Homo sapiens: one gene and its partners. The protein of the gene in region 2 binds, or shares a complex with, the protein of the main gene of each other region. Each region holds a gene or a part of one and is shown on either strand. Other genes may lie near its edges. A codon is read from its position in the direction of its gene.

The links.
Region 1: the proteins of INTS11 (region 2) and INTS9 are in contact, whole or in part, in a cryo-EM structure (PDB 8RC4), measured with the Homo sapiens proteins. Residues at the interface, in NP_060341.2 of Homo sapiens: His94, Gln97, Ala98, His137, Leu138, His139, Gln140, Thr141, Lys274, His277, Tyr278, Lys280, Leu281, Phe282, Ile283, Pro284, Trp285, Arg291, Phe294, Ser449, Pro450, Ser451, Ile452, Pro453, Val454, Gly455, Ile456, Ser457, Leu458, Leu461; in NP_060720.2 of Homo sapiens: Glu127, Gly198 (codon at 3,552), Tyr199 (codon at 3,549), Ser200 (codon at 3,546), Gln201 (codon at 3,543), Lys202 (codon at 3,540), Tyr231 (codon at 2,423), Glu338, Phe339, Ile342, Phe343, Glu345, Gln352, Lys354, Val355, Tyr356, Leu357, Pro358, Glu359, Pro360, Pro361, Arg511, Arg512, Tyr513, Glu514, Lys515, Ile516, Glu517, Ile518, Met519.
Region 3: the proteins of INTS11 (region 2) and INTS4 are in contact, whole or in part, in a cryo-EM structure (PDB 7BFP), measured with the Homo sapiens proteins. Residues at the interface, in NP_060341.2 of Homo sapiens: Pro183, Trp191, Lys194, Asp212, Gln288, Gln400, Gln404, Lys462, Met465, Ala466, Leu469; in NP_291025.3 of Homo sapiens: Leu159, Asp161, Thr162, Arg167, Tyr203, Gln207, Asp244, Ser292, Gly294, Trp296, Arg299, Lys323, Met326, Ser327, Asp328.
Region 4: the proteins of INTS11 (region 2) and WDR73 are in contact, whole or in part, in a cryo-EM structure (PDB 8R22), measured with the Homo sapiens proteins. Residues at the interface, in NP_060341.2 of Homo sapiens: Tyr206, Thr208, Thr209, Ile210, Arg211, Asp212, Ser213, Arg215, Cys216, Arg217, Glu218, Arg219, Asp220, Leu222, Lys223, Lys224, His226, Phe255, Arg258, Met259, Leu364, Val384, Glu385, Tyr386, Ser388, Lys418, Lys419, Glu421, Phe422, Gln425; in NP_116245.2 of Homo sapiens: Asp5 (codon at 2,979), Asp6 (codon at 2,976), Leu8 (codon at 2,970), Val9 (codon at 2,967), Ser11 (codon at 2,961), Leu12 (codon at 2,958), Tyr15 (codon at 2,415), Gln16 (codon at 2,412), Phe18 (codon at 2,406), Tyr19 (codon at 2,403), Ala20 (codon at 2,400), Phe21 (codon at 2,397), Asp22 (codon at 2,394), Leu23 (codon at 2,391), Glu50 (codon at 1,481), Leu52 (codon at 1,475), Arg59 (codon at 1,454), Leu68, Phe69, Pro70, Glu71, Arg72, Asp73, Phe74, Lys75, Val76, Gly79, Phe81, Asp116, Ser117.

The regions. Positions count from the first base shown.
Region 1 is NC_000008.11:28,809,958-28,816,971, forward strand, and holds part of INTS9 (integrator complex subunit 9), read right to left. Parts: intron 3,656-7,014; coding exon 3,535-3,655; intron 2,505-3,534; coding exon 2,370-2,504; intron 1-2,369. UniProt on the Homo sapiens protein: Component of the integrator complex, a multiprotein complex that terminates RNA polymerase II (Pol II) transcription in the promoter-proximal region of genes.
Region 2 is NC_000001.11:1,321,647-1,329,377, reverse strand, and holds the start of INTS11 (integrator complex subunit 11), read left to right. Parts: upstream 1-4,717; 5' UTR 4,718-4,769; coding exon 4,770-4,797; intron 4,798-6,090; coding exon of another isoform or gene 6,091-6,201; exon of another isoform or gene 6,202-6,486; intron 6,487-7,393; coding exon of another isoform or gene 7,394-7,470; intron 7,471-7,731. Other genes in the region: CPTP (ceramide-1-phosphate transfer protein), read right to left, coding at 1,615-2,137, 2,346-2,467.
Region 3 is NC_000011.10:77,991,659-77,999,191, forward strand, and holds the start of INTS4 (integrator complex subunit 4), read right to left. Parts: upstream 3,011-7,533; 5' UTR 2,986-3,010; coding exon 2,932-2,985; intron 1-2,931. UniProt on the Homo sapiens protein: Component of the integrator complex, a multiprotein complex that terminates RNA polymerase II (Pol II) transcription in the promoter-proximal region of genes.
Region 4 is NC_000015.10:84,651,284-84,659,188, forward strand, and holds the start of WDR73 (integrator complex assembly factor WDR73), read right to left. Parts: upstream 3,001-7,905; 5' UTR 2,992-3,000; coding exon 2,951-2,991; exon of another isoform or gene 2,417-2,950; coding exon 2,349-2,416; intron 1,520-2,348; coding exon 1,431-1,519; intron 1-1,430. Other genes in the region: NMB (neuromedin-B isoform 2 preproprotein), read right to left, coding at 3,987-4,121, 5,893-6,065, 6,713-6,869. UniProt on the Homo sapiens protein: Component of a multiprotein complex required for the assembly of the RNA endonuclease module of the integrator complex. Associates with INTS9 and INTS11 in the cytoplasm, stabilizing the INTS9-INTS11 heterodimer and blocking the active site of INTS11.

The DNA of each region.
Region 1 (7,014 bases), on a different chromosome or scaffold from region 2:
AAAATGGGGTCTGTTAATTATTGACTTAGCCATTCCATAATGCATGCACATATCAAGACATCATGCATACCATAAATATATACAATTTTTATTTGTAATTAAAAAATGAATAATTTCTTTCTTTCTTTACTGATAGTGCTCTAACATGGTGAATGTTCTTCAAACCCACTGGACTTTGTGTAAGAAGCATGGTTGGCACCAACCCCACAGAGTGACATGGTACAAGAAGGGAAAAGATGATCTGTATGCCAAGGGAAAGTGGCTTAATGGCAGGAAGGGGTGGCTATGTAGGCAGACCAAGCCAATCTTCTGGAAAAAGGCTAAAACTACAAACGAGATTGTGCTAAAGCTTAAGTGTTGGGCCCAACTGCAGATCTAGGAGAATGCTGGCTACTAGAGATACAAGTATTTTTAACTGGGAAGGGATAAAAGGAGAAAAGGCCAAGTGATCCAGTTCTTAGCTTCATTTTTGGTTTTATTATGAAGACAATAAAAATTTGAGGTTATGTTAAAAAATAAATAGGCCAGGTGTGGTGGCTATAGTCCTAGCTACTTGGGAGGACTGCTTGAGCCCAGGAGTTTGAGATTACAGTGAGCTATGACTACACCACTGTACTCCAGTCCGGGTGACAGAACAAGACCTTCTCTCTCTCTCTCTCTCTCCGTAAATAGATGTAGATAAACAAATGTAATATGGACTTCCACAAGTTACCTAATGTATCTATATACCCATTCAACAGCTAACTAATGTCCCCCCACTCCCTATTACAAACATAGAAATAACCAACATTCAGGAAATGAACAGTAAATTATTTACAAATACCAAAAAGGAGTAAGTATCACATTCATAACAATGTTTATATGTGCTAGGCTTCTTGCCAAATATGACTGGAATGAATAACTTAAAACGTTCCAATAGTTTCCCTCTCCATATTAAAATAAAACCAAAATTCCTCCTCACAGCCTGCTAACACTACATGACATGGTGTCTGCCACTCTCTTGGACCTCACTGCTGACCTCCACGCTGTGACCACAATAGCCTTCTCTGCCCTTCAAACATGCCCAGCTTATTCTTACTTTAGGGGCCCTTCACTGGCCATCCCTTTGTAATACAAACACTCACGGCTTTACGTGGCTAATTTCTCTGTTTTTCTTTTTTCTTTCTCTCTCTTTTTTTTTTTTTTTGTTGAGATGGAGTCTCACTCTGTCACCCAGGCTGGGTACAGCAGCATGATCTCAGCTCACTGCAACCTCTGTCTCCCGAGTTCAAGTGATTCTCCCGCCTCAGCCTCCCAAGTAGCTGGGATTATAGGTGCACACCATCACACCTAATTTTTGTATTTTTAGTAGAGATGGGGTTTCACCATGTTGGCCAGGTTGGTCTTGAACTCCTGACCTAAAGTGATCCACTCGCCTTGGCTTCCCAAAGTGCTGGGATTACAGGCATGAGCCACCATACCCGGCCTTTTTTTTTTTTTCTTGAGGCATAATCTCACTCTGTTACCCGCACTGGAGTACGGTGGCGCAATCTCGGCTGACTGCAACCTCCGCTTCCCAGGCTCAAGCGATCCTTCTGCCTTAGCTTCCTGAGTAGCTGGGACCACAGCGTGTGCCACCACACCCGGGTAATTTTTGTATTTTTTGTAGAGACAGAGTTTTGCCATATTGCCCAGGCCGGTCCTGAACTCCTAGGCTCAAGCAGTTATCCCATTTCGGCCTCCCAAAATGATGGGATTACAGGTATGAGCCACCGCGCCCAGCCGACATGGTTTATCTCTCCAGGTCTCAGTTCAAGTGAGATCTTCCCATTGGCTTTCCTGGGCACCCAATCTAAACCAATGGCCATCATTCTGAAAATCACCCTGCTTTACTGTTTTCAGTACTTGTATCTCAATCGGAAATGACCAGGCACTTTATTTGTTTACCTACTATACACCATCCTCTCCCCAACATCATCAACTCCCCTACAACATAAGATCTACGGGCACATGCTTTGCCCGTTGGTCACCACTGAATCCCCAATACCCAGATGTGTGCATGACACTTGACACTTGGCCCTTGGGAAGGATTTTAAACAGTTAATATTTGCTGAGTAAATGCATAACCATCTGTGTCCCACATCAGGCTATGGTCTTTGGAAGGCCTGGGGGATTTCAGAATCCTAGGAGTGACCCTCAAGGTAGCAGGACTATTTCAGAGAAACCTGTAGGTCAAAATGTTGAGACTCAAATAGTCTACCTTGGCTAGAGAGTATCTGTAGAAAACCATATTTGGAAGATTTAAAAATGGCTGATGGTTCCTTGGATACATTCTGAATTTGACTTAAGTAACCAAAAAGCTGAGTTGCTAGAAGAGAATTTGGAATTACCTGGGGGTGTGTGGTAAGCAAGGAGGATCCAGAGACATAAGACACTTTCTCGTAATGAGACTGGATGATCCAGTTGGAGCTCCCAAGGGCATAGCCAGAGCTCAGAGGAGTCACCTGGACCGCACCAAAAAGCTCCTAAAAGAGAACCACAGTAAGAATGTGCAATGAGCTTACAGTGACAGTCACATGAGGTAATTCTGCAGGGAAAAACAACAGAAATATCCTCAGTTTAAAAACAAAAATTATTTTAAAGTAAACCAGAGACTGGGTGCAATGGCTCACGCCTGTAATCCCAGCACTTTGGGAGGCTGAGGCCAGGAGTTCAAGACCAGCCTGGGCAACATGGTGAAACCCTGTCTCTACAAAAAAATACAAAAATTAGCTGGGCATGGTGGCACATGCCTGTAGTCCTCAAGCAGCTACTTGGGGCAGGAGGATCACTGGAGCCCGGGAAGTTGAGGCTGCAGTGAGCCATGTTTGTACCACTGCGCTCCAGCCTGAGTAACAAAGTGGGACCTTGTCTCAGTCAATCAATCAATAAAGTAAACTAGAAAGTTTTAAGGAAAACAGAAAGATGATGGAGATCAACTGGCAGACAAAGAAAGCAATCCTATAATATTTACTTGTCACCTGAGAGCTTCAGCTCTCTTCCATGTCCCCAGGCACTCAAGGTTCACACATTAAAAGGGAGAGATGAAATATTACCAAACAGACCAAAGACTCACACACTTTGGCTTTCCTTTTTCATTTTCAGTTAGGTGTTAGGCCCTTGTTGTTCGGTACTGAGTAGCTCTGGGCACAGGATGACAGTAAGAAATGGGAAGGCTTATCATTTAGGTCAGAGCTCAAAAGTCACACTTGACAAACTCTTCTCTCTTCCCGTTTCACCCATCCAAAATCTATAAAATCTAATGTGAACAGGATGAGACGCCTTTCTCCGGACTCCCTGCACGCTGGCCAATCGAATGCTGGCTGGTGATGGAGATGTGAGGGTGGGGAAAGAGCACCAATAAAATCCTGCGCGGAACGGAGGAAAGAACAGAGGCTCTGGATCCTCAGCAATGGAATGGCTTTAAAAACGTAACTATAGGATTCTTCCAAACAACAAACAACAATATGAATGGAAAGCATTCATGAATAACTGAAATGTAATATGAATACTCACAATTTTCTGAGAATATCCCACCAGCTGGATTTTACTAAGGGCAGAGTTCACCTCTTGCATTGTATAGCATCTTCTCCAGGTTGAGACTTCCACTGCATCCTTGAGAGGAGAAGGTAACAGCCTGCAAATGGATCACAATGTCAACTACCAGGTGAACATTTCTTCATGTTCTACAGCATTCCTTTCTAGTAATTTGTCCATTTGATCCAAATGGTTTAATTTACTGGCATATAATTGTTCATAGGATTCCTTTATGACCATTTCTCTGTTTTTATTTTTACTTTTTTTGAGACAGAGTCTCACTGTGTCACCAGGCTGGAGTGCTATGGCGCCATCTCGGCTCACTGCAACCTCCACCTCCCGGGTTCAAGCGAATCTCCTGCCTCAGCCTCCTAAGTAGCTGGGATTACAGGCGCCCACCACCATGCCCGGCTAATTTTTGTATTTTTAGTAGAGATGGGGTTTCACCATGTTGGCCATGATGGTCTCAATCTCCTGACCTTGTGATAGGCCCAACTCGGCCTCCCAAAGTGCTGGGATTACAGGCATGAGCCACCGTGCTCAGCCATTTCTTTTTTTAAAAAAAAAAAAAAAATAGAGACATGGTCTTGCTATGTCGCCCAAAATGTGTCAACAGAAAAACGTTTTATCATTTGCTCCAAAAGAATCAGGAGACCTGAAGAGTAACTTCCCTGACATTCACTGTACAATACAGGTCCAAGTACTGGGGTGAAATGAATGCATGCCATTAGCCTCTCCTCTCTCTCCTGAAACAACACTGAACAGGGCTTCTCACACACACACACACACACACACACACACACACACACACACACACACACACTCTCACACACACACCCTTAAGACAAAGAGAATGAGAGAAGAGACAATAGCAAGGCATTTTAGAAAGTAGACAGACAAATGATAACTGACTTCATAGGCCCAGGAAAGTTCAATGCAAACGTTTAATTTCTACTGCAGAACCCACAAAAAATATGGCAACTGAAAACAACAGGTGTATCAGGAAGTTGAATCAACCTAAAAACAAGAGGAACTGTTGAAAAAAGAGACGAGATACTTAGAACCTTCCAGATCTCCTCATTCCTTCCATATAGCTCAGCAGATGTCCCTTCTCCTCTCAGGTATGCTACCAGAGGTTGTTCTCTGGAGGGAGTAAAAATGAAAGTCTGGACTACGGGAAACCATCAACTGAGACAGCCTTCCTAAACAAAAATTTACAGAGGAACAATGTTCCTCTCCTCATTTGGCTGCCAAAGCACTATGAGTAAGCTTATTCCCCTCAGGGTAGGGGGCTGAAAGAATCTTCTCTGAAGAATCCGATCAGCCTCAAAGAAAAAAAATTAATGAAAAGATTCTAACGCAGAGGATTCCACAAAGAAACAGCTCAATCAGATTACTTTATGGTAAAGTGTGGAAGTGAACAAGTCCTACCCATGGCACATAGACTTTCTAATTAGTTTTTTTAATCGTTCAACTCTTAAACATGAGCCAATAGCCAAGGACTACCATAAATTTGAGAAAAGTCTCTAAAATAATAAAGGCCTCAAGTGGGGGCAGAGGAGCAGGCAGGGAAATTAGAAGAAATAAATTAGGCAGGTAGAAGAAAACTTTAAGAACAGCTTGTCCTTACTATCGTTAGAAAAATAAGATAGTATAGCTAAGAAATGAGAAGAGATTGCTACAAAATAAAAGATTAAGAGAATAAAAAGAGCTGTTACAAATTAGAAATACAATGTCATATAGAGAGTGAAAGCATGCCAACAATACACCAGAATTTCAAATAAGCTAAAAAGATTTAAAAGTTATACAAACGTGAAAGAGGTACATACATGAAAAACCAGCAAAGCTTATAAATGAGGTGACAAAACTCAATAAAGAATTAGAAATAAAAGAAAACATCATTTTGGAAATGAAGACTAAACTACATGTTGACCATCCCAAATCTGAAAACCTGAAGTCAGAAATGGTCTAAAATCTGCAGCTTTTTGAGGCAAACATGACGCTTAAAGGAAATGCTCACTGGATTACTTTGGATTTTGGATTTGGGATGCTCAATCAGCAATATTCCAAAATCGGAAAAAGTCTGAAGTCTGAAACACTTTGGTCCCAAGTATTTCACATAAGGGACACTCAACCTGTAATAGAAACACAAGAGTAGATTAATAAAAAATACCAAAAAGAAATGAAGAGATTTAAACAATTCAAAAGAACCTAACAAATGTTGAAGACAGATAAGCAAGATGCCACATAAGGGAATCTTATGTGGCATCACAGAAAACCAAGTGAGAATAATAATTAACACTCATAATATTCAATTACTAAATACTATAATTGCTAAAATGAAGAGACACGAAACTACACACTAAAAGAACACAGTGTACACTTGAGAATACTGACCCAGAACAATGAACAACAGACATATTCTGGAAAATATTTAGACTACAAGCAAACCTTTGGGATCTAGGAAAAGAACAAGTGACTTACAAGGAAAGAAAATTAGATTTTATCAGTGTTTTTAATAGCAATGTTTAATATTAGAAAAAAATATGAGAACATATTTAAGATACTCAAAGAAAGAAAATGCATGCCAAGGACTATATATCTAGCAAAACTGACTTTCTTTTTTTTTTCCTTTTTTAAAAATTTTATTATTATTATACTTTAAGTTTTAGGGTACATGTGCACAATGTGCAGGTTAGTTACATATGTATACATGTGCCATGCTGGTGTGCTGCACCCATTAACTCGTCATTTAGCATTAGGTATGTCCCCTAAAGCTGTCCCTCCCCCCTCCCCCCACCCACAACAGTCCCCAGAGTGTGATGTTCCCCTTCCTGTGTCCATATGTTCTCATTGTTCAATTCCCACCTATGAGTGAGAATATGCGGTGTTTGGTTTTTTTGTTCTTGCGATAGTTTACTGTGAATGATGATTTCCAATTTCGTCCATGTCCCTACAAAGGACATGAACTCATCATTTTTTATGGCTGCATAGTATTCCATGGTGTATATGTGCCACATTTTCTTAATCCAGTCTATCATTGTTGGACATTTGGGTTGGTTCCAAGTCTTTGCTATTGTGAATAGTGCCGCAATAAACATACGTGTGCATGTGTCTTTATAGCAGCATGACTTATAGTCCTTTGGGTATATACCCAGTAATGGGATGGCTGGGTCAAATGGTATTTCTAGTTCTAGATCCCTGAGGAATCGCCACACTGACTTCCACAATGGTTGAACTAGTTTACAGTCCCACCAACAGTGTAAAAGTGTTCCTATTTCTCCACATCCTCTCCAGCACCTGTTGTTTCCTGACTTTTTAATGATTGCCATTCTAACTGGTGTAAGGTGGTATCTCATTGTGGTTTTCATTTGCATTTCTCTGATGGCCAGTGATGGTGAGCATTTTTTCATGTGTTTTTTGGCTGCATAAATGTCTTCTTTTGAGAAGTGTCTGTTC
Region 2 (7,731 bases):
CCATATGCAGCTCCCACAGACCCTGAGGTGGGGGTGACATCCAGGAAGACTCTGCTGAATTGCATCCCCTTTCTGTCCAGGCCACTGTTGTGGCTGGGAGTGGCCCCCACCTCCACGCACACATCCCACGCAGGCCTCTCCTCTTTTGCATGGAGAGGCGGATGTCTGCCCTCCCAACCGTCCTCCCAACCCAGCCTCTTGGTTCTGGGTGACTCTGTCTCTCTCTTGTCTCACCTGTACAACAGGCATAGTGATGGGACCTCTCTGGGAGAATGGGCACACAGCAGCCCTGCCTCCAAGGCTGGCCTTTTCTCAGGGTGTTTGTTGAGCCCTGGGGCTAACACAGCCCCCTGAGCCTGGCAGTGGGGCCTCAGCTCCCTTGGAGTTAGGTGCACCCACCTCAGCTGTGTCCCTGGGGTGAGGGCCCTCCCCACCCTCACTGGGTGCCCCTGTGTCCCCCTGCAGGAAATCAGGCACCCAGTGCACCCCAGCGTCTCCCTCCTGGGAGGCTGTGTGATTTATTAACGTTGGAAGACATCACATAGATTGCACTCTGGAAGCTCGCATGTCTGCTGGGCCGTGGGGGCCGTCCCTCTGCCACCCCGAGGTGCTGGGGTCCACTGTGAAGAGCCAGTGGCCAGGCCCCAGGCACTGGATGGTGGCTGGGCTGGTTGTGGCTGTCTGGTAGCCTTTGGCTGGGCCACAGGGTCCAGACCCTCCTGTTCCGTGCCCCACGGGTCTCCTGAGCACTGTGGGGAGGGGGCATCAAGGGGCACGGGGGAGAAGGGACACAGCATTTCACTGGGTGTAGCAGAGTCCCAGCTCCTGGGGGCCTTGGGCTGGGCTGGGCTGTGCAGACCCACGGCCGCTGCGGGAGGCGGCCTGCTGCGTCCCTCGGGGAACTGGTGCCGTGCAGGGGCTACGGAGGAGGCTGTCCCAAGGGCGGGGACTTCCTGGGCCCTTCTGTGAGGAGCCTTGGTCTCAGCTTCCGGCTGTCCTGCCCCCAGTCTGCCTGGCACGCTGAGGGGCAAACAAGGCAGGAGAGGCGGGGAGAGCCCCACAGTGCCCAGACTGCTGTTGAGGGTTTCTGCCAGCCAGGGCATGGAGGGCACTGAGTCCCCTGGGCTCAAGGCTGCCCACCTGGGCAGACACGGGGTCCCAGGCACGGGCCTGAGATGAGGACACATCGGCTGGCAGAAAGGAGAAAGGATGGAGCCTCCACACCCCGGGACCTGTGACTTCACCCTGGTTCGCAGATGCACCCCACAGGCTAGGGGGTGGCGACCTTTCGGGCTCTTGCAGGCCCGGCCCCCACCCCTGCCTGCTCTGCTCTGCACCGCACCCTGGCGAGGCCTGGCTGCGCACGCGTGTAATAGGCCGAGGGGGAGCCGTGGCCGAGGCGTCTTGTTCCGGACCGAGAGGGTGGGCCTCTTCTGGGCTGGTCGCCACCTTCTCTGTCACAGTCTGTGGTTCCTAACCAGCTCAGCTCACAGGGGCGACAGAGGATCTCCTGTTCCCGCAGCGCCCAGAAGGCTCTGCCACGGGACTCACGGCCCTGGCCACCGCAGCCCAGATCTGCAGCAGGAAAGCCGGTGCGGCCCTGGCTTCCCGCCCCTAGGGCAGGTCCAGCAGGGAGTGCTCGGCGTAGAGCTTCTGGGAGACGTTGTAGACACGCTGGATGAAGGGGAGGGCCTCGCCTAGCATCTGCACGGCCTGCTCCGGGGGCCCCACGTTCATGGCCTCCAGGAAGACCTCGCGTGTGGGCAGCGTGCAGAAGGCCACGGTGACGGCGCGGCGCACGACCCAGGGGTGGTAGGCGGCCAGCGAGGCGTTGTAGGAGTCGGCGCAGAGCGCGGAGGTGCGTGCGTCCTCGGGGCTGGTACGCAGGCCCTCCAGGAACAGCTGCAGCCAGTGCAGGGCGCGGTGCAGGCGCAGCACCGTCCGGCAGCCAGACTCCGGGTGGTGGGAGCGGCGCTCCAGGTCCACCAGCCGGTTGCTCAGCTCGTGGGCCACCATGGCCTGCAGGCTGCGGTAGTGCTCGCTCTGCGGGCCGCCCCTGAGGCGCTCCATGATCCGCAGCTTGGAGACCACGTCCTTGGAGATGAATGAGAAGATGGTGCCCAGGCTGTTCAGAAACCTGTGGAAGGGAGCGGGGCTCGAGTCCTCGCCCAGGCCTGGGGCAGCCCGCCTGGGGTGCAGGGGACGCTGCCCAGCCTGCGGGGGCTCACACCCATCTGGAAACGGGCAGCAAAGCTGGTGGGGACAGGCAGTCGGGAGGCAGATGCCACATATGGGACTCGGGCCAGGGGAGCGCCCACCTCAGGAGGCAGCCCTGGCACACGCACCTGACCAGGCCCTTCCAGCTGGCAATGTAGGGGTCCAGCAAGACCTCTTCCTTCTCATCGAGACACTGCTTGAAACTGACCAGGACGACTTTCAGATTGAAACCTGTCTCCGAGTCATCCATTTTTTGATAGGAACGGAAATACAGTAGGGCTGGGGGGCTGTGTCGCTGGGGTCAGCTTGCTCTGTGGCTCATTTTCTGTGTGTGGAGGGGAACAAAATAGCTGCGATCCCATTGCCGCTCACTGAACACTCATGCCCCTCATGGAGCTTCCTCCCAGGAGCTGCCTGGCTCTGCTCCCAGCCAAGCCGCAGGCTCTCAGGCACACCACCCTGACCCACCCTTCATCAGGATTGCGCATTCAGGGACCTTGGCACAGCCCCTCCTGTGGATCAGGCCACTGACTCCGTGTCAGTCCCTGACCCCGAGAGTGGCCCCCTCTGGCTTTATCAGACCACTAGGCCCCGCTGTCTGCAGCAGGTGTCTCTGCTGGTGCTTTCTTGTTTTTGTTTCTCTCTCTAGATGCTGTATCTGCTTTTACCAGCTGGAGAAATACTAAGCCCCTGCCGAGAGCCAAGCACCATCCTAGCCATCTATCTGGGTGCATGGGGAGTGCGAGCAGCCATCTGGGGTGGGGTCAGATGACAACAAAGACAGGAAGTTCTGAAGTCCTAGACAAGAAAACAGACACAGCAGAAAGCAGAGACAGGTGGGGCCGGGGGTGGGGGGATGCTGCCGGGCAGGCTGCCCCATCTTCCTCACTGCTACATCCCCAAAAGCAGAAAAGAGGCTGTAGGGCTGGCACTTGCTGGATGGATGGACACGTGTTTTCACTCCTGTTGCTGAAACTCCATGTCCCACACAGATGGGTTTTACCACTCAGAAGATTGCCACGAGGCTCTTGTACTAGCCCTAGGGAGCCTTCCACGAGTGGCCCAGGCCCTGCTTTGGATTCTGCTGGCATTCACATAGTCACTCCACAGATCCACAGACATCCAGGCACCCATGCTTTGTGTGAGTGTTGCCAAGCACCCTTGCCCTGTCTCCCCGGGTGCCCCACGGGCCCGCACCTGCTCTGGGGAACCTGAGAGTCAGCTGCATTCCACCTCGACCAGGAAGAGGGCCTGGGGGTTCCTAGGCCGGTTGGTGCTGGGAGCCCTGTCCTGGCCTCCCTGGCTGCAGGGACTCCATCGGTGGGGGAGGGGGAAGGGCACCCAGCCGTGGTGAGAGCTCCTGGCCAGGAGCAGGTGGGCAGGTTGCTCAGCACCCTAGGACTGGGCCCTTCATCACTAGGGATCATGGGCTGCAAGCCCTGCCCAGCCCGTGGCCCAGGCTGCTGGAGCACTGGTGCCTGCAGGGTGCTGAAGCCTGGCGTTGCAGGCCCCACAGGTTGGGTTGCATGCTTGGCACCAGGCGGAGGCCCCAGATGTGAGCTCACCGGGCTTCAGGTGTGGGGGATGGCTGCTCCTGGGCCTCAGAAAGATGCAGTCCCATAGACTTCCAGCACGCCCCTCCCCTCCTCGGGCCTTAATTTTGTCCACTGAGAAGATGGTCTCTGAGGCTCTGGGGTTTCCTTCTTGGTCACCAGATATTCTGCGGGCCTTGCCTTCCTGCCCAGATTCGAGCCAGTGGCAAACAGAAGCTGCCAGGAGCTTCTCAGAGCTGTGGCTGGTGGCTCGGTAACAACAGGAAGGGCAGTGGCTGTGCAGGAGGCAGGCAGCTTGCCAGCCCAGGAAGGTGACCCAGGACACCTCCAGGCCTTTCCCAGGGCAGCCCAACGGCCCAAGGTCAGGGCCGGGCGCGAGGGCGGCCTGAGCACAGAGCACGGGGGCTGACAGCAGGCTGGGGGGCCAGCAGGAGACGGGGCCCCACGGCGCCCCAGGCCTTGTGGGTGGGACCAGACCCTGTCGAGCGAGCGCTACGAGTCTCACCTGGGAAGGGGGCTTCAGATGGCACCGGACTGGATGGGCACCGGTTCGGGTCCCTGCTCCACCGAGAGGCCCAGGAAGGGGCGGAGGCCCGGGGTGGTGTTGGGGAGGGGCCGACCTGAGCCACGGCTCCGTCCTGCGCGGGAGCCGGGTCCTCGGCCGCCCGCCCGCTCCGGCCCTCTAGGACGACGTCCCCTCCCGCTCCCGGCCCCTCGGCGACTTCCGGACCGTGCGGGTTGGGTTGGGCAGGTGCGGCCGCCGAGTCCGAGCCGCTCACCTAGGCCGTAGCCGCCGTGCGGGCCCCGTCCCCGCCCACCGCCCCGCCCTCGCCCCGCCCTCGCCCGCCGCCCTGATTGGTTGGATGCTGCCCAATCAGGAGGCCCGGCGCCCCGACCCGCGTTTCCGGCTAGCGCACCGGAAGTTGCAGCGAGGTGGTTGCGCCTGCGCAGTGCATCACCGCAGGCGGGCCTCGCGGGTCCGGGAGCGCGGCGGAGACGATGCCTGAGATCAGAGTCACGCCCTTGGGTGAGTGGGAGCCGCCGGGAGGGCTGTGGGGTGGGCTCCGTATGCGGCTCCGGGCGGGCTGGGCGCCCCGCTCCCTCCCGTTTCTCGTGGAGCCAGGTGCGCGCCGCGGGCGTCCTCCGGTCTCCTCCCCGCGCGGGCCCTGGTGGGAGCCGAGAGGCGGCCTAGTCCCTGCACCCCGGGCCTCCGGCAGTGACGCGAGAACGCGAGCCCCGAGGTTCAGGCGGCCGTGAGGGGACGTCGCAGATGGGGCCGCGGGGCCTTCGCGCTCGCTGTGCGCTTTCGTCGGTGCCTTGACCTCCCCGTGCCGCGCGCTGCCGCCTCCAGCCCTACCAGCCCTTCAGTCCCTTAGCCCCTCAGCCCCGCAGACCCTCAGCCCCCCAGCTCCCCAGCCTCTCAGCCTCCCAGCCCCTCAGCCCCCCAGCCCCTCAGCCCCCCAGCCCCCCAGCCCCTCAGCCCCGCAGACCCTCAGCCCCCCAGCTCCCCAGCCTCTCAGCCTCCCAGCCCCTCAGCCCCTCAGTCCCTCAGCCCCCCAGCCCCCCAGCGCTCCAGTCCCCCAGACCCTCAGCCCAGCAGACCCTCAGTCCCCCAGCCCCTCAGTCCCCCAGCCCCTCAGCCCAGCAGACCCCCAGACCCTCAGCCCCCCAGCCCCTCAGCCCCCCAGTCCCCCAGCCCCCAAGCCCCTTAACCCCGCAAGCCCCTCAGCCCCCCAGCCCCGCTTCTGCCTCCTCACGTCTTGCTTTCTGTCCACCACTCTGTGTGCTCACGCCCGAGTTACAATCAACTCTCACTTTAGCTCTTGTTCTACCTGATTTCTGCAACACTGAAAAAAATAGCAAAAAACGCAAATATGTACTCCTAAAAGTCCTGACAGTCTGGGCACTGTGGCTCACGCCTGCAATCACAGCACTTTGGAAGGCAGAGGTGGGAGGATCGCTTGAGCCCAGGAGTTCAAGACCAACCTAGCCAACATGGCAAGACCCCATCACTCCAAAAAAAAAAAATGCTAAAATTGGCAGGGCGTGGTGGTGTGTGCCTGTGGTTCAAGCTACTTGGGAGGCTGAGTTGTGAGGATTGCTTGAGCCCAGGAGGTTGAGGCTGCAGTGAGCCATGATTGTGCCACTGCACTCCAGCCTGGGTGACAGCAAAACCATGTCTCAAAAGAAAGTCAAAGTCGTAACAGTATAGAACGATGTGAAGAAGGAAAAAATTAGTCAAAATCCAGGGTCTCAGAAACAGCTGGAGGGACATGGTGTTGGTGGCCAGTCATCCTGATGTCCTTAGCGTTTTCCACAGGTGCCTGCCCTGTGCTGTCCTGGAACCTGGTCCTTCCACCGGGCAGGGGGTCGAGGGCACCTTCCAGCACAGACACCAGGACGGGATTCCATGTCCTCCCCCATGGCGTGAGCGCTTCCTCGGAGGGTGCCCCCCGCCCCGGTGTGGACACTGTGCTGTGAACACCCCTGGCCTGTGCACACCCCATGGCATTTTGCAGCTGTTTGCATGGGCCCCACTGCCCTCCCCTGCTCTCTGGGTCCTCCGTGGGGTCCTCCCAGCCTGCCCCTTTCCCATTTGGCCTCTTGGCTGCCTGTTCTGCCCACTCTCTGGACATCTGATCTTTCTGATCTTTCATGTGGCTTCAATTACCCGCAATCTGTACCTGGGTATATTCTCAAGGTCACCTCAGCCAAGGTATCATCAAAGCCGAAGTCCTGTTTCACCGCTTCCCTGCACCAGGGACTGCCTCGGGCTCCGTGTCCGCGCTCACTGGACCACTGCTGTGTCCTTGGGGTCACTCCCACGCCTTGGCCTGTGTGTGGCTACCCCCCCCGCCGCCGGTCCCCCTACCCACCCTGCCCATCCCTCCCCACCGCCGGTCCCCCCACCCACCCTGCCCGTCCCTCCCCCTGCTGGTCCCTTCCCTCCCCCCTGCCTGTCCCTCCCTGCTGCCTGTCCTCCCTCCGCCCGCCCCGCTTCTTCTCCTCCCCTGGACCATCCCTTCCCCACCCCGTCCCTCCCCCTCCCCCACCCTACCCCTCCCCTCCCCTGCTCAAAAGTTGGCTTCTCGGAGCAGTCTCCTGTCATGGTTCTGGAAGTTTTGAGGCTTCCTCATTCTCTCACCTTGCTCTTTTCTGTCATAGTAACCTTCGTCTGGCGTGCTTTGGGTGTCTTGTTTGTCTGCCGTCTGTCTCCTTGCTGACAGGGATATCTCCTCCTGTCTTCTGAGCCCTGTCCCCTCGTGTATCTCCAGGCTCTATTCCCGCACCTTTCCACTTTCCTTCCTGGGATCACTGTGGGTCCTGTCGGGAGGCGGGACTGCCAGTACTTCAGGACTGGGCTTTGGAATTCAGAAAACCAGCCCGGGCCCCATGCCTCGGGGCCGTGTGCCACAAGTGCCTCTGTGGCCTTAGGTCCCTGGGCATGAAGAGGGGCGGCCCTCCCTTCCCACAGGTGCCAGAGGGCCTCTGTGAGCCTGGCGTGGCTTGGGGTAGGAGATGCAGAGGGAGGAGACAGCTGAGACCCTGCTCTCAGAGAGCTCACACCCAGCGGGGGCAGGAACAGGCCTGGAAGAGAACCTGAGATCCCCTCTCTGTGGCAGGCAGCCCCTCGGCTGTGGCCCCGTCATCCTGATGTGTGGTGCTGGCTTTGGACACTTCGAGTGGCTGGCAGGGGGAGGTGGGTGGGATTCAAGGGGAAAACTGTTCACTGCCATCAGACTCCTGCCCAGGCACAGTCTGTGCAGGGGCCGTGACCCTTTCCTCTCGGGCCCCCAGGCCACATGAGGGGGCTGAGTGTGCCTTGGCTGGCCAAGGCCTCTGGCTGGAGCAGCTGGGCAGGGCTGCTTGGCTGTCAGGAGTGTGGGAGGGCTGCAGATGAGGGTCTGTGTTGGGGGCTGCATGGTGTGCAGTGGTGTGAGGCTCGTGTTGCCACGCTGGC
Region 3 (7,533 bases), on a different chromosome or scaffold from region 2:
ATTACAAGCATGAGCCACGGTGCCCAGCCTTACACTAACATTTTGCTCTACCTATCTCTGAGGATTGTGGTAGCCTTTGGGTTTAGAGGTCACACAAAGGATCTACTCCATTTTTTTGAGACAGAGCAAGACACTGTCGCCCAGGCAGGAGTGCAATGGTGCAATCTTGGCTTGCTGCAATCTCCACCTCCTAGGTTCAAATGATTCTCTGACTGACACCCAACATGCTGGGATTATAGGTGTGTGCCACCTCCACCTACTACGTTCAAGCGATTCACCTCCCTGACTCCCAACTAGCTGGAATTACAGGTGTGTGCCACCACACATGGCTAATTTTTGTATTTCTAGTAGAGACAGGTTTTGCCATGTTACCCAGGCTGGTTTCGAACTTCTGGCCTCAAGTGATCCCTCTGCTTCAGTCTCCCAAAGTCCATTCTTTATTAGAAAACAAATATCAGACATGGCATGGTGGCTCATGCCTGTAATCCCAGCACTTTGAGAGGCTTAGGCAGGCGGATCACTTGAGGCCAGGAGTTCAAGACCAGCCTGGCCAACATGGCAAAACCCCATCTCTACTAAAAACACAAAAATTAGCTGGGGGTGGTGGTGTATGCCTGCAGTCCCAGCTATGCAGGAGGCTGAGGATTGCGTGAACCCAGGAGGCAGAAGTTGCAGTGAGCTAGGATTGCGCAACTGCACACCAGTTTGGGCGAAAAGAGCGAAACTCCATCTCAAAACAGAAGAAAAGGAAACAAATATCCGATGGGCGTAGTGGCTTACACCTGAAATCCTAGCACTTTGGGAGGCTGAGGCAGGAGGATCCCTTGAGCCCAGGAGTTCGAGACCAGCCTGGGCAACATGGTGAAATCCTGTCTCTGTTAAAAAATAATAATAAAATAAAATAAATTTCCTTACCACCTAATGGTGCGTTTTTATGTACTGAGCAATCACCTCCTTACAAATTCACATTTCTATAGAAAAGAGAGTAGAATTATTCTAGACAAGAACACAGTATGACATGATAAAAAGAATAAGGACTTTGGAGTCAGAGGAATTTGTATTCAATTACAACTTACTAGCTGGGGAAGGCCTTCTTCTATAGGAGGGCATACCAATACTTTATTATCACAGAGCTAGTCGATAAATCTGTTATTAAACATAACTTTATTATACGTATATGTAAGTGCTAGGCACATATCAGTTCTCCCTCCTCATCTTTTCAGCGGAGAAAAAAGAACAGAAGCACTAAGATCTCATTTAATCACTTTATGTTAACAACTGATGAAAAATTAAGTGAAGAAATTAGCTCTTCCCTTAAAATTCTTAGCCATTTCTATCCTAGTCCTCTCAAACTCAGTTTTCAGTCTTATCGAAGCTGTAGTTAGGTCAAAAGCTAGGAATTTTTTCCCTAAGTATTATATAAGGGAGAGGACAAGCAATATCAACTGTCATTCAACCACCAATAACACTTTAGTGAGCCAGGCCCTATTGTCCATCTCCAGGACACGGAGATGAGCCAGGCATTAGCTCTGCCATCAAGGACCTCCGACTGGTGGGAAGATAGGTACACCGGTAATGACAGCAGCACTGAACAAAAAGTACAAATAGATTAGTACCACAGAATGCTACAGAAACAGGTGAAGAAGAGACTAAGCTCTCGCTGAGGTTTCATTTGGGTCTTGAAGCACAAATGTTAAGTCCACTGGGTGGAGAACAAAAAGAAAGGGAAGAATGGCATGTATTCTGTGAGAAGAGACAACCAGTGCAAGAGTTTTGAGATATGCAAACACAAGAACACATGGCATATCTGGTCATGTGAGGATGGGTGGAAGAGGGCTGAGCAGTCTTGGGAAATGGGAACAACAGAATGTTGGGAAGAGAGGAAATCACATTGTGCAACAGTGCTAATGTTCTTAATGCCACTGAACTTTATACTTAAAATTGTTAAAATTGTAAATTTTATATTATGTATTGACATATTTTGTATTTGTATTAACATATTTTAATGCTGGATGAATGAATCCATGTAATGTTTAAGGATCAGTATCCTGCTGGATGCTCTAAGCCTTGCCACTCTACAAGTCTAAGGATCTAAGAATGCAACCAATGCACTGGTGTAAATTTGGGGGCATGTCAGGAATGCAGAATCTTGCCTCACCTCCTCTGCTTGACTTATCAAATAGAATCGACATTTGAACAACGTCCCCAGGTAATTTGTATACACATTAATATCTGAGAAATAGGACATCAGGATGATTTAGGATCAACCCTAGCAACATCTACGTGGAGACACATGGAGCATCACTGACTCCCGACAGGGACTCTGCCCACCTGTCACAACTTCATGGTGAGGAAGGTACTGCCCTCCTTCCTAGGTGAGCTGTTCTACCAATAGAGAGCTCTTCCCCTATGAAGTCTGTGACCCCCGCCTGCTTAGACTGCGCCTGAAGGAATTCTATAGACCCTTCTTTCAGCCCCTTAGAACCTTGTGTATATTCCAACTGGTCCCTGGGAGGTTTTTTTTTGGAACGGGGGTGCGGGGAGGCTAGAAGGGGCTCTGCTGCTAACTGGCTGTATCCTCGTACCCCTCCGGAAGGCTCAATGTCCACATCTGGAAAACGAGGATGCTAATGTAACGCGATGGAGCAAAGTTGTGTGAGAGAATAAAATGAAATAACGGATAAGACAGTTTCGTAAATTAAAAAACACTGTTTCTCCTAATAATTTTTTTAAAATCCTGTCAGACTTCACATATTAATGACAACAGCGGCTGCAAACTAACACGCCCACTAACTTGCAATATCAGAGATTATCAACAAGTCAGCACTTAACACGGGCGTATGGAGCCTCTTCTGTTCCGGCAAAGTGCCTGGGATTTGGATAATCTACCCTGGTCCGGATCGGTTCTGGATCTTTCCCGCCAGAGCTTACCTGAACCACTTTCGTGAATTCCTCATAAACCCGCTTCTTAAGGTGCGCCGCCATGCCTACCCGCGGGCCCTCTCAGCTTCCGTACACTAGGAGGGAGGCGGGGGTGGACGGATCCGGAAAACTTGCGTAGGCGCGGGGGGTGGGTGGATGACTTGCCGAGATCCCACAAGGCAGTGGGATTTGGGGAAAGAGCGACCGCTTCCTGTTGCTCGACTGCCTCGCCACTGTACGGACTGATTTGGCGGCCTACGCCGGAAGAACGGAAATAAGAGCTTCGCTTGTGGGAGGCGGGGCCTCTGGCGGGAGGAGCTGAGACTGAAAGGGTGGGCAACCCAATGGGAGCTTTGGGAGGCTGGTTGGTGGCCTCGGAGTGGCTAAGAGACTAGCGCGGCGCGGCGCGAAGGGAGGGAGGGAGGAAGTACAGGTTAAAGGGCAGAGGCGGGGTGCTCCAGAGCTAGAGGCAAAACCCGGAGCTCTGTAAGGGGTTTACGACTCGTGAAAAAACTCAGAGGCTCGGCTGACTTTCCCATCATCCTTTGCTGTACACGATGCTGTTTGTAGGTTTCCTGAGCACTGCCTTTGTTCAAGCTGTGCGCCACCTCTCTTGTTTTGGGGTGCCTTTCCATACTTCCTTATTCCAGTTTTGCAAAAGCTGCCATCCTTTAAGGCATCAATCCCTGCTCTGATAGCTATAGTACAGTAGAAGACTTCTGAGACCAAGGATAAAGCAACAAAGCTACAGACTACAGCTCTGGTTCTTGAGCAAATGGCTCAACTACAAATGCATTTATAATAACTAACCTGACAAAGATGTGACAATGGAGTGAAATAATGCAGGAACATTTTACGGACTGTAAGGTGTAGTGCACATGTTAGTGTCAGTAAATCCAAGGTCAAGTTTTACAACCTACATGAAACTAGCTGTTCATTATTTTGGTCTTTCAAAAGAATGTGGGCCAGGCGCGGTGGCTCATGCCTGTAATCCCAATACTTTGGCAGGCCGAGGCGGATGGATCACTTGAGGTCAGGAGTTCGAGACCAGCCTGGCCAACATGGGGAAACCCCGTCTCTACTAAAAATACAAAAATTAGTCGGGGCATGGTGGCACACGCCTGTAATCCCAGTTTCTTGGGAGGTTGAGGCAGAAGAATCACTTGAACATGGGAAGCGGAGGTTGCAGTGAGCCGAGATCGCGCCACTGCACTCCAGCCTGGGCGACTGAGCGAGACTCCGTTATCAAAAAAAAAAAAAAAGAATTAATGTGGGATAGTTTAAAAAAAAAAAAGCAGGAGGCTGAGGTGGATACAGAGGACCCAAAAATAAACAAAAGATAGTATTTATCCTCAAGGTCCTACAATCTGAGAAGACAGACACCCAAACTGATGGTGACAGTGCAACTGAAATGTGCTGGGTAACGGGAATGAATGTGGTTCAAACAGACCTAATTTCTTCAGAGTGCCTCAGGGAAGGCTTTCCTAAAATTAGAGGAAACTGGGAGTGGTGGCTCACGCCTATAATCCCAGCACTTTGAGAGGCCGAGGCGGGCAGATCACCTAGTTCAGAAGTTTTGAGACCAGCCTGGGCAACATGGCGAAATCTACTTTAAAAATACAAAATTTAGCTGGGCATGATGGTGGCCCACGCCTGAAGTCCCAGCTACTCTGGAGGCTGAGGCGGGAAAATCGCTTGGGCCTGGGATGTGGAGGTTGCAGTGAGCCGAGATCCAGCCACTGCACTCCAGCCTGGGCAACGGAGTGAGACCCTGTCTCCAAAAAAAAAAAAAAAAAAAAAAAAGGCTGGGCGCGGTGGCTCACCCCTATAATCCCAACACTTTGGGAGGCCGAGGCAGGCGGATCACCTGAGGTCGGGAGTTCGAGACCAGCCTGGCCAACATGGTGAAACCCCGTCTCTCCTAAAAATACAAAAACTAGCCGGGCGTCGGGGTGGGTGACTGTAATCCTAGCTACACGGGAGGCTGAAGCAGGAGAATCGTTTGAACCCAGGTGGCAGCGGCTGCAGTGCGCCGAGATCGGGCCTCTGTACTCCAGCCTGAGCAACAGAGCGAGACTCTGTCTCAAGAAAAAAAAAAGAAAAAAAAAGGAAACTATTTCTAATGCAGCTTTAAAAGAATGAGTTTTTCCAGAAACAAAGGCATCCCAGACCGCCGAGATAAGATATACAAATATGTCAAGGGAAATGAAAAACATTTAGCAAACAGTACCTTTAATAAAGCTTAGCTGCTATTATTACCATTATCATATTCTATCAAATCTAAGCTGCCAGCAATTGTAAAATCAATATTTTATTTATTATGTTAAGAAAAGAAATGCTGAAATTAAATACAATGGTTTCTAATTGCTTAGATTTGTTATGTATACTTACAGAAACAGCTCTTTTTAACTTATTTAGACATAGATTTGTATCTTACCTCGCACTGCTGTTTCCATGTCTTCCTGTGCACATAAGAACTTTTTAATGCCAAATTATAGGGTAATCTATTTGGAGATATATTTAATAGTAATTTAAAATAACACATGTAATTCCAAAATTGCACAGAGCTCAGTCGAAGCGATGACACCATGAACTGCTACGACTCAGTATACATATGAGCGATTGGCCAACATCTCCTGATTTCGGAGACATTAAATGTGCATCATAGCATCAATGATACAGAGTATTATCATCGTTATTAAATACATGGCGGCCAGGTGCGGTGGCTCACACCTGTAATCCCAGCACTTTGGAAGACCAAGGTGAGAGGATAGCTTGAGCTCAGGAGTTGGAGACCAGCCTGGGCAACATGGTGAAAACCTATCTCTACCAAAAATACAAAAAATTAGCTGGGCGTGGTGGCATATGCCTGTAGTGCCAGCTACTCGGGAGGCTGAGGTAGGAAGATTGCTTGAGCCCGCTTGGCAGAGATTGCAGTAGCTGAGATCGCACCACTGCACTCCAGCCTGGGTGACAGAATGAGACCCTGTCTCAAAATAATAAATAAATAAATAAATAAATAAATAAATGGCTTTAGGAAGGAGTTTGGTGCATTCCGAAAACCAAAGGAACTTCAGTTCATGTTGAAAGTTAAGTGCATGCAGGGAACAGAAGAAGCAATAAAAATAAAGTTGAGGCCAGGCATGGTGCCTCATGCCTGTAATCCCAGTACTTTGGGAGGTGGTAGGTGGGAGGATCCCTTGAGCTCAGGAGTTCCAGACCAGTCAGTGCAACAGAAAGAGACCCTGTCTCTATATTTTAAAAAAAAAAAATTTATATGGAGTTTATCTCTGTCACCCAGGCTGCAGTGCAGTGGCACAATCGTGGCTCCCTGTAGCCTCGATCTCTGAGGTTCAAGCGATTCTCCTGCCTCAGCCTCATGAGTAGCTGAGATTACAGGCATGCGCCACCACACCCAGCTAATCTTTTTGCATTTTTAGTAGAGACAGGGTCTCACCATGTTGCCGAGGCTGGTCTCAAACTCCTGACCTCAAGTGATCTGCCCACCTCGGCCTCCCAAAGTGCTGGGATTACAGGCATGAGCCACCACGCCTGGCTATATAAATTTTTTTTAAATTATAAATAAATAAATTTGAGAAGTTGGTATAGCCAACTTCTCAATGAGCCAGATTGGTATAGAAACAAGAACACACATTCTTTAATGTTGAATTGAAAAACCGTCTTTATTGTATTGATGCCATTTTCCTTTGACTTTTATTATTACTTATGAAAATACATTAAGGTTCACCTGTGAATGAATCCGTGAGGCTTCAGTCTTCTCTCTCTCTTGCATAACAGCAGCCCAACTTAGTAACTTCTTCTCTACCTGCTGGTTCAGAACAAGAGCCCCAGTGGTCTGGGGACAGTCTCATTACATGTCCAATGTAATGAACAATGACTATGTTCTCTAGGGCAACTGTTCCTCCCTTGGGGAGTAAGTCTTCCAAACCTACTGAGCCCAAGAATTCATAAATGAATTATTAGGTGTAAAAGAGAGAGGAACTGCTCCTATCTCCACCCTTTGATAACCAGACCCATGTTCTAACTGTGGGAGAAGCAGTACTATATTTTAGCTGTTGGTATAAGGCATATGCCACAAACAGCGGCCCAAACTCACAATGTGTTGGCTCTTGACTAGCGCTATAACTGAATCTCCAAAAGGTTATTATTCTGCTTTATTATAGCACCTACATCTGAATGATGGGGTTCCTGGCAAGACCAAGAAGTTTCTTCACTACAATTTTCTCAGCATAAAATAAGCTCCTTAATCAGAAGCAATGTGTGGAGTACTATGATAATGAATGAGGCATCCATAGATGATGGAGCTGGCAGAAATATTGCAGGCAGGGAAGTCAAATCTGAATTTGGAATATGAATCTATTCCTGTGAGGACAAATCACTGCTCCTTCCATGATGGAAAGGATCCAGTGTGTAGTTGAATGATTGCAAAAAAAGCCCCAAATCTCCCCCTCTCGGTATGTATACCCCTTGAAGTGTGACTTTGAAGGTGCTTTTATTAAGAGATGAAATCTATATTATCACCCTTTGAATTTGTGCTGGCCTTGTGACAGGCCAATACAATGTGGTAGAAGTGACAGCGTGCTAATTTTG
Region 4 (7,905 bases), on a different chromosome or scaffold from region 2:
AGCATGGTGGCACATGCCTGTAGTCCCAGCTACTTGGGAGGCTGAGGCGGGAGGATCACTTGAGCCTGGGAGGTTTAGACTGTAGTGAGCCAGGGATCGCGCCACTGCACTCCAGCCTGGGTGACAGAGCAAGCCCTTGTCTCAAAACAAAAAGGAATTCAGGAGCAAACACTCAAATTCCTGCCCCCACATGGCCCTTCAAGGTCATCTGCCTGCATGCCTCACTCCTCCCTTGTCCTCTGATGACTAATACCATCCCCTGGACTCCTGATCTATCCTCACCTTCTATTCCTGGAAGCAGGAGCGTGTTCCCTGTGATATTCCCTCATTTTCACCCTCTCCCTCTTCAAGGGTTACTTTCCCATAGCTTCTAACTCTGCTCAAGCCTCTGTGTTTAGGAAACCTTCCCTCAGATCTGTGTTTCCGACTAGTTGCTGCTTTAGCTTCTTCCCTCCCTACATTTCGTGACTCTGCTTCCTCTTCATTTTTAGTCTTTGGGCCTGACCACCACCAGCAAAAATCCTGTAGCAGAGGTCACCAAGAGTTTCCCAATTGCCAGTCTTATGAATGAACTCAATTCCTCATCTGAATGATTTTTTTTTTTGAGATGCAGTCTTGCTGTTGCCCAGGCTGGAGTGCAGTGGCACGATCTCAGCTCACTACAACCTCCGCCTCCCGGGTTCAAGCAATTCTCCTGCCTCAGCCTCCTGAGTAGCTGGGATTACAGGTGTGCGCCACCATGCCTGGCTAATTTTTGTATTTTTAGTAGAGACGGGGTTTCACCATGTTGGTCAGGATGGTCCCGAACTCCTGACCTCATGATCCGCCCAACTCGGCCTCCCAAAGTGCTGGGATTACAGGCGTAAGCCACTGCACCTGGCCTTCAATTCTTCTCTCAATGATTTTATTGGAACTCTAGACAGCTACTAACTCTTTTTTTCTTGAGAAGTTCTCTTCTCTTGGCTTCAGAAACATTGACCTTTTCTGAGATTCCTCTTACCTCAGAGGCTGTTCTTTCTTAGTATTCTTTGGGGAGGGGGGGTGCATCTTCCTGTACTCATCCCTTAAATGTGTTCCCTGAGGTTCCGTCCTCACTATATTCTCCTCACTCCTTATATACCACACATTCACTAGGTGACTTTAATCACTCTACGCATTTCGACCGCCCTCTATATCCTTAATCGCTCCCTAAATCTATTTCTGATAAAGTATAACTGACCTCCTCCTCTGATAGCCCTCTGTAAACCACGAGACATTCTACAGCATTTATCTCTGTGCATATGTGCCTCCCTCTGTTAGACTAGAAGGGCAGGCCTAGCGCTTTCTCTCTTTCTAGTATCCAGGACAATACCTGGTAGATAACAGGAGCTCCACAAATGTTTAATAAATAAATAAAAGTTGACATACTCAGCATTTATATTTTAAGTTACCTTGTTTTCCTTTACAGAAAGTCTGAGAGGTAATTTCAGATGAAGAATTTCATTCTTTTTCAGGCTTTCATAGCCAGCAACAAAGACTCCTGGAAAAAGAAGCAGAGGTAGCTGTCACAAATTGTTAGAAAGATTGCAGACCATGCAATCCCCCGAAGTAAGGATACATTCCTTCACTGTGCAGCCTTGTATGGAGGAATTGAGTACCTGGTTGTGTCTTTTTCAGACAAGGTCTCGCTGTGTCAGCCAGGCTGGAGTGCAGTGGTCCGATCACAGCTCACTGCAGCCTCAACCTGCCAGGCTCAAGTGATCCTCCCACCACAGCCTTCAGAGTAGCTGGGATTATAGGCGTGAGCCACCATGCTCGGCTAATTTTTGTATTTTTTGTAGAGACAGGGTTTCCTTGCTTAGGTTAGTCTCAAATTCCTGGGATCAAGCAATCTGCCCGCTGCCTCAGCCTCCTGAAGTGCCCAGCCTGAAGACTTTTTTTGTTAGCCACGCTGGAATACAGTGTCGTGATCTCAGCTCACTGCAACCTCCACCTCCTGGGTTCAAGTGATTCTCCTGCCTCAGCCTCCCCAGTAGCTGCTGGTACACAGGTGTGCACCACCTCGTCCGGCTAATTTTTGTATTTTCAGTAGAGACGGGGTTTCACCATGTTGGCCAGACTGGTCTCGAACTCCTGACCTCAGGTGATCCGCCTGCCTCGGCCTCCCAAAGTGCTGGGATTACAGGCGTGAACCACTGCTCCCGGTCAGAGATCTTAATAAGAGGAATATTAGTGCTGATGGGGCATCAAATTGCTACAAGTGACTCTCAGGTGCCCAGAAGAGTGGGTTGGGTCCCTCTAGGCTTAGCTCCTGAAACCCAGCTCAGGAGTGAGATTCCCTCTCCTTCAGGGCTAGAAAGGTATACCACCTTTGTCATCAATCCATTCAAGGACTCGAGTGGCTCCTGACAGGTCGAATGCATAGAAATCCTGGTACCTGCACAAAAGGGACACAGAATCACACGATGCACAGCACTTCACAGCTCAAAGAACTCCAAGATGGCAGCCGCATGGTTCAGTGGCCCAAACTCTGGAGTCAGGCAGACGTGGGACTGAGTTTACTTCCCATTTTACTCCCTGTTTCTGGGACCAGGCCAGTCCCTTGATGTCCCTGAGCCTCGGTCCTCATGTGTGGACGTCCCAGGGTACCCAGATTTCCCAAGGTTGACGTGAGGAATCAATGAGATCATCTGTGTTCTGAGCTGAACTCAGAGGCTGGCGCAAACTAACTGGGCACTGCGTCTTCACAAGCGCGGCTCTTACTAGTAATCTCACAACGCGCGCACGCAGGAAGGAGCCATTTCCTAGAGATGGGGGCCTAGGCCCAGGCGGAGTCCTCCACGGTGGCGAGCCCCGAGGCCACAGCTGGCCCACTCTGCACCAGGATCCCCAACGTGCCTCCACCCACACCCATCCGCCCGCCAGGCAAGCTCCAGGCCCAGCTCCCATGTCCCAGCCCCGTACGATTTACAAGCGCAAGGATTCCACCAGCCAGTCGTCCCCAGGATCCATGGCAACGACCGCTTCCGGCGTCTCACTTCCGCCTGCGAGCCTTCGGGGGCCGCGCGGCTCTCGCGAGATGTGGGCAGGGCCTCCCGTTAGGGGCGGGGTTAACAGGCTGAGCTGCGGCCCGGCATGGGTGGGTTACGGGTTTTCTCCGCGAAAGCTCCGGGAAAAGTGACCTGAAATCGGGACTTTCCCGCTGTCAGCTCCAAGCAGGACCTGAGGACCAAATGATCGCCCGTTTTAGGGCCAGGTGTTTGCAGCCCAAGAGAGGGGCAATGAATGCTCCAAGGCCAGAAATAATACAGGACCGCCCGGTTAAATTCGAATTTCAGAAAAACGGTGAATAATTTCTTTCTTACGAGTATGTTCATGCAATATTTGGTACATTTTATTAGATAAAATTATTGTTTATCTGAAATTCGAATTTAACTGGGTGTCCAGTATTTTTATTTGCTAACGCTGGCAACCCTTCTGACGGCCAGAGAAGAGAGGAAGCGGCCGGCAGGGTCTGGATCCCAACTCGGCGCTCCCCTCCAAGTCCGGCGGGGGTATTGAGTAAAGCCCGGCAGTGTAGTGTCTGCAGCCCCCTTTTACTAGCGAGGAAACTAGTGACACTTGCCTGCGCCAGTAGGTGGCAGAGATGAGAGTAGAACCCCGCGCCTGGCACGAAGCCTGGCATGCAACAGGCGTTATTTGCTTGCTGAATGAATGGGTAGGAGGCCAGAGTCAGTGCCAGGCTGGTGCCATGGCATGGGGTATTCTGGACTTTTTGAGCCAGCCCCATCTCACTGAACACTCTGCCCTCCAGCCCCCTTTTCCTCCCATCCCCTAAAAGACGGGTGAAAGGAGAGGACCAGGCATTGTATGTAAAGAGCAAGGTTTTATTCACCAATTCAACAGGGAAGCAGGAAATACAGCAGGAACATAATCTGTGTCTGCATCAGCGATATTTCTGGTGACCCAGCCAGAAATCACAGTAATGGAGTAACAGAGATTTGAGCTCAGGATTTACATCCAGATGGGGCCATCAACAGGGTCCCATTCAGCACCTTCCCTGGGTGGGCACAATCTAAGCCACGCTGTTGTGTCTGCCCCATTATTGGTGTCATTTCTGCAGTATTTGTACCAGCAGCCTCCTGTACTGAAGAGAAACATACAGAAGAATTGAGCCAGGGAGGGGCTCCTGATAAAGATAGGGGCATCCTGCCATTCCTAAGTGCCAGATGTCTGCAGAGGTGGGCACCAGCAGGCTGTCAGCTGAGGCAGGCCCCAGAGCACCCTGAATTGCCTTGGAGGGGTCGGGGCAGTAGTTTTCTCAGAACACAGCCCCAACCACCCAGGGTGGTCATGACAGTCAAAGAAGATCGTGGAAGAAAATCCAAATACAGTGCTTGGTGCTGGGCTAGTGTCAGCGTCCTCACTCCCCCACCCCAGCTCTGCCCCAGACCTCACTCTGAAGCCCCAGACGTAGGCACTGCTGCTTCTGAGATTCTCTAGTTGGTCTGCATGTGTCAGAGCTTCAAAACCAAGGGCATTAGAGGTGACATTGTTTCCCTTCAGACTCAGCCAGCCCAAGCTCCTAGGCCTTACATCTGAGGTCCTCAGGGGCTGCTGGTTCTGTGCCTCAGGAAGTCAGGGATGTTGGTTGAGGCTGGGTTGGACCTTTTCTAGGGAATGCCTCTCCCTTCAAAATGCACACACTATATGCTAGGCACACTGGGGGATATGAAGGCGAGTCTACAACAGGTGCCGCCAGGGAGCTCACAGACTGATAAGAGCTCGCATCTACTAAGGGCTGTCTATGAGCCAGGCACCATGCTGAGCATTTGACATAAATGGTCTCATTTAATGGGAGATGGGCCTTATTATCTTCATTTTATGGGTGAAGAATATTGAGGCTTTAGAGAAGTTAAGGGACATTTCTAAGGTCATACAGCTACTAAGTAGCTAGGTTATGAGCCCAGCACGTTGTAGTCAAAACCCACATTCTACCACATCACACTGCCTTCTGCACACAGCAGCAGGACCAGGGAGGGTGGTGTGCAGTAAGGACAGCACCAGGAGCAGGGAATGAAGGAGTTGCCACTCAGCGGGGCTATACCTTGAGGCTAGCTTGGCTCCAGCTTTGGAGTCTTGAATCCCATAGATCAGTGACTGACAACCAATAATGATTTGGGGCCCTCTCCCCCAGCAGACATCTGGTGATGTCTGGAGGTCTTTTCAGTTGTCACAACTTGATGGGGGGGAAAGATGCTACTGGCATCTAGTATGTAGAGACCAGGGATGCTGCCAAACATCCCATGATGCACACGTCAGCCCTCACAAGAAACAGTGATTCAGCCTAGAACGTCAAATGTACTGAAGTTGCTAAACCCTACCACTGGATACTGAGGCAGATGAGAGAATGGGAAGAGCTCCAGTCCAGGTGAACAAGGTCCAGACTCTGTCTTGGCTGCTGACTTCTCTTTCCCTCTCTGGGCCTCAGGGTCCCATTCCGGCCACAAGCATACACAGGACACAGCAAAGGTGGACTTGACTAATGCAGCAGGGAACAGCATGGGTGGGACAAGACTGTGTAGACTGGGGGAGAAAGGTCCTGCTCCAAAAGGCTGATGATCCCAGTCTGTTACTTTAGACTGGGTGATGAGTCAGGGGAACTTCTTTCCCTACTTCTTGCCCCATGGGGTCTACTGGGAAGGTCAGCTTCCTTTCTTTGGACTGTTCCTCCTTTGAGCTCTGCCTCAAGAGGGAAAAGCCTGGAAACCTGGCTTTCTGGGGTCCACACCCATAATGTCCTAGTCAGACAGTCACACCCTAATACAGTACTGGGTGGTAATTCCTCCCATGCAGGATCCGGGGATGGCCCCAGCTGGGCCCTCCTGACATTGGAGCAGGGGCCCGGCTCACCTGGATTTGGGGTGCGGGGCGGCTGAGGCTCACGCCCAGAGCCTTCTTTAGCAGGAGGATTCCGAGCAGATCATGACTCAGCTGCAGTCGCTGGTCCCTCAGGGAGGTGTGGGGAGCTGTCCCCAATGGGGATGGGCTGGAAGGCTCCAGACTCTTCTTGCCCATGAAGTGACCTGGAAAGGAGGTGTCCAGGCACAAGGAAGTCAAGCAGCCAGGATCCTACCTCAGAGGAAAAGTTCCTCATCTCTCCCACGTTTCCGTTCTTGTAGCGGGAAGACACTTAACCTTCCTCCTCTTGGTGCTTCCACCTCACCAAGGAGCCACAAAGGTGTCTGGGTGGTGGCAAAGCCTGCTCCCTCAGCTTTTCCTGAACAGGTAGAGAGGATGGCACAGCTGGCAGGAAGGTGGGATGGTCCAGGGCCAGGGAGAAACTCTGCTAGTTGTGTGGGCTGCTTGGACAAGGGACGAAAAAGGGCAGGGTAGGAAGTGGAGAGTGAAGAGGCGCCTGGAAAGTGGAGGTGCAGCAAAAACACACCAGCGGTTAGAAGATTCGGTTAAGTCTCGCCTAAGGTAAGGGGCACCGGCTGGCAGTGGGATTTAGGATCTAGCCCAGCCCTGTCTTAAACTGGCTGCGCGACCTTAGCCAAGTCACTGACCTGTCCGGGTCTCAAGTACATATCTATTAAATTAGATGAGCCCCAGGGTTTTCCACCTGCTCCGACACTAGTGTCCGTGGCTGAGGAGCGGCCAGAGGGTTGAGAAGGAAATGGGGTCTGAACTGGATGAGGGGCGCTTGCTTGCTCCGTCCCCAAAGACTTACCGGTGGCCCAGAGGTTGCCTCGCGAGTGCACTCGGATCTTGCTGGCTCGGCTGCGGGGCTCCGGGAGATCCCAGCTGAGCGGGGCGACGCCGGCAGCGAGCAGGGCGAAGAGCAGGAGGCTGCCGAACATCCGAGCGCCCCCCGCCCGCCGGGCCATGGCTGTGCCCGGGCCGCGGCTTCGTTCGGGCGCGCTTCCCGGCCGCTGGGCTCCGGGGCTGCCTTCGATCCTTTTAAATCCGCGCCCCTGGGGGCGGAGCCTGCCCTGAGCAGCGGAGCCGTGCCCCGCGCCCGCCGCCCTCCCCGCCGTCCCCACCCTCCCGCTAGGTTACCAGGCAGGGGCACCCCCTTTGGGCCGCCCAGAGACCTGCACACCCACACTCTGGCCCGCACGCGGGCACCGCTTCCGCCAGGGGCTTCTGGCGGAAGCCCGCCACCTTCAGGCTAAGGACCGGGCACCGGCCAAACAGGGGCCCGGCCCCGGCGGCGGAGCCGCTTCCCCTGGCCCTGCCTTGCCACTCTGCCACGGCTTTCGGCCAAATAGGCACTTCAGCCCTCTGAGCCTCTCTTCATGAGGGTAGAGGTCGGGCGAGGAGCTCTCCTCCCGGGTAACAGGCTTTTTTTTTTTTTTTTTTTTTTTTTTCTGAGACAGGATCTGGCAGTATCGCGCAGGTTGGAGTGCGGTGGCGCGATCACGGCTCACTGCAAACTCAACCTCCAGGGCTGGGCTCAAGCCTCAGCCTCCCCAGAAGCTGGGACCACAGGCACACGCCTTCATGCCTGGCTTTTTTTTTTTTTCTTTCCAAGAGACTGGATGTCGCTAGGTTTCCCAGGCTAACAGAGGCATTTTTACAGTGTCCAGCCAAGTGCTAGGCACCAAAGGACTTCCATAAACTAATCCCCATCACCTCCGCCCTTTGGGGGAATCTGACCCGTGTTCACCTTGCTCTCTGCCCTCTCACAGCCAGCATCACAGTCTGGAAATGTTCTGGCACACAGTAGGTGCTCAGAATGGGAATGCAGAATGATGGAGGGTGGGACAAAGGGCCGCTTCTGAGGAACGGGCATCCAGCTGGAGGGCCTGGCTTATGGGCAGGAAGCAGACCTCTGGGTCAAGAAAGTGGAAAGAGCACTGCACCCAGGACTGCACTGCACCCAGGAGTCCATGTACAAGCTGTGACCCGGCTGAACCTCAC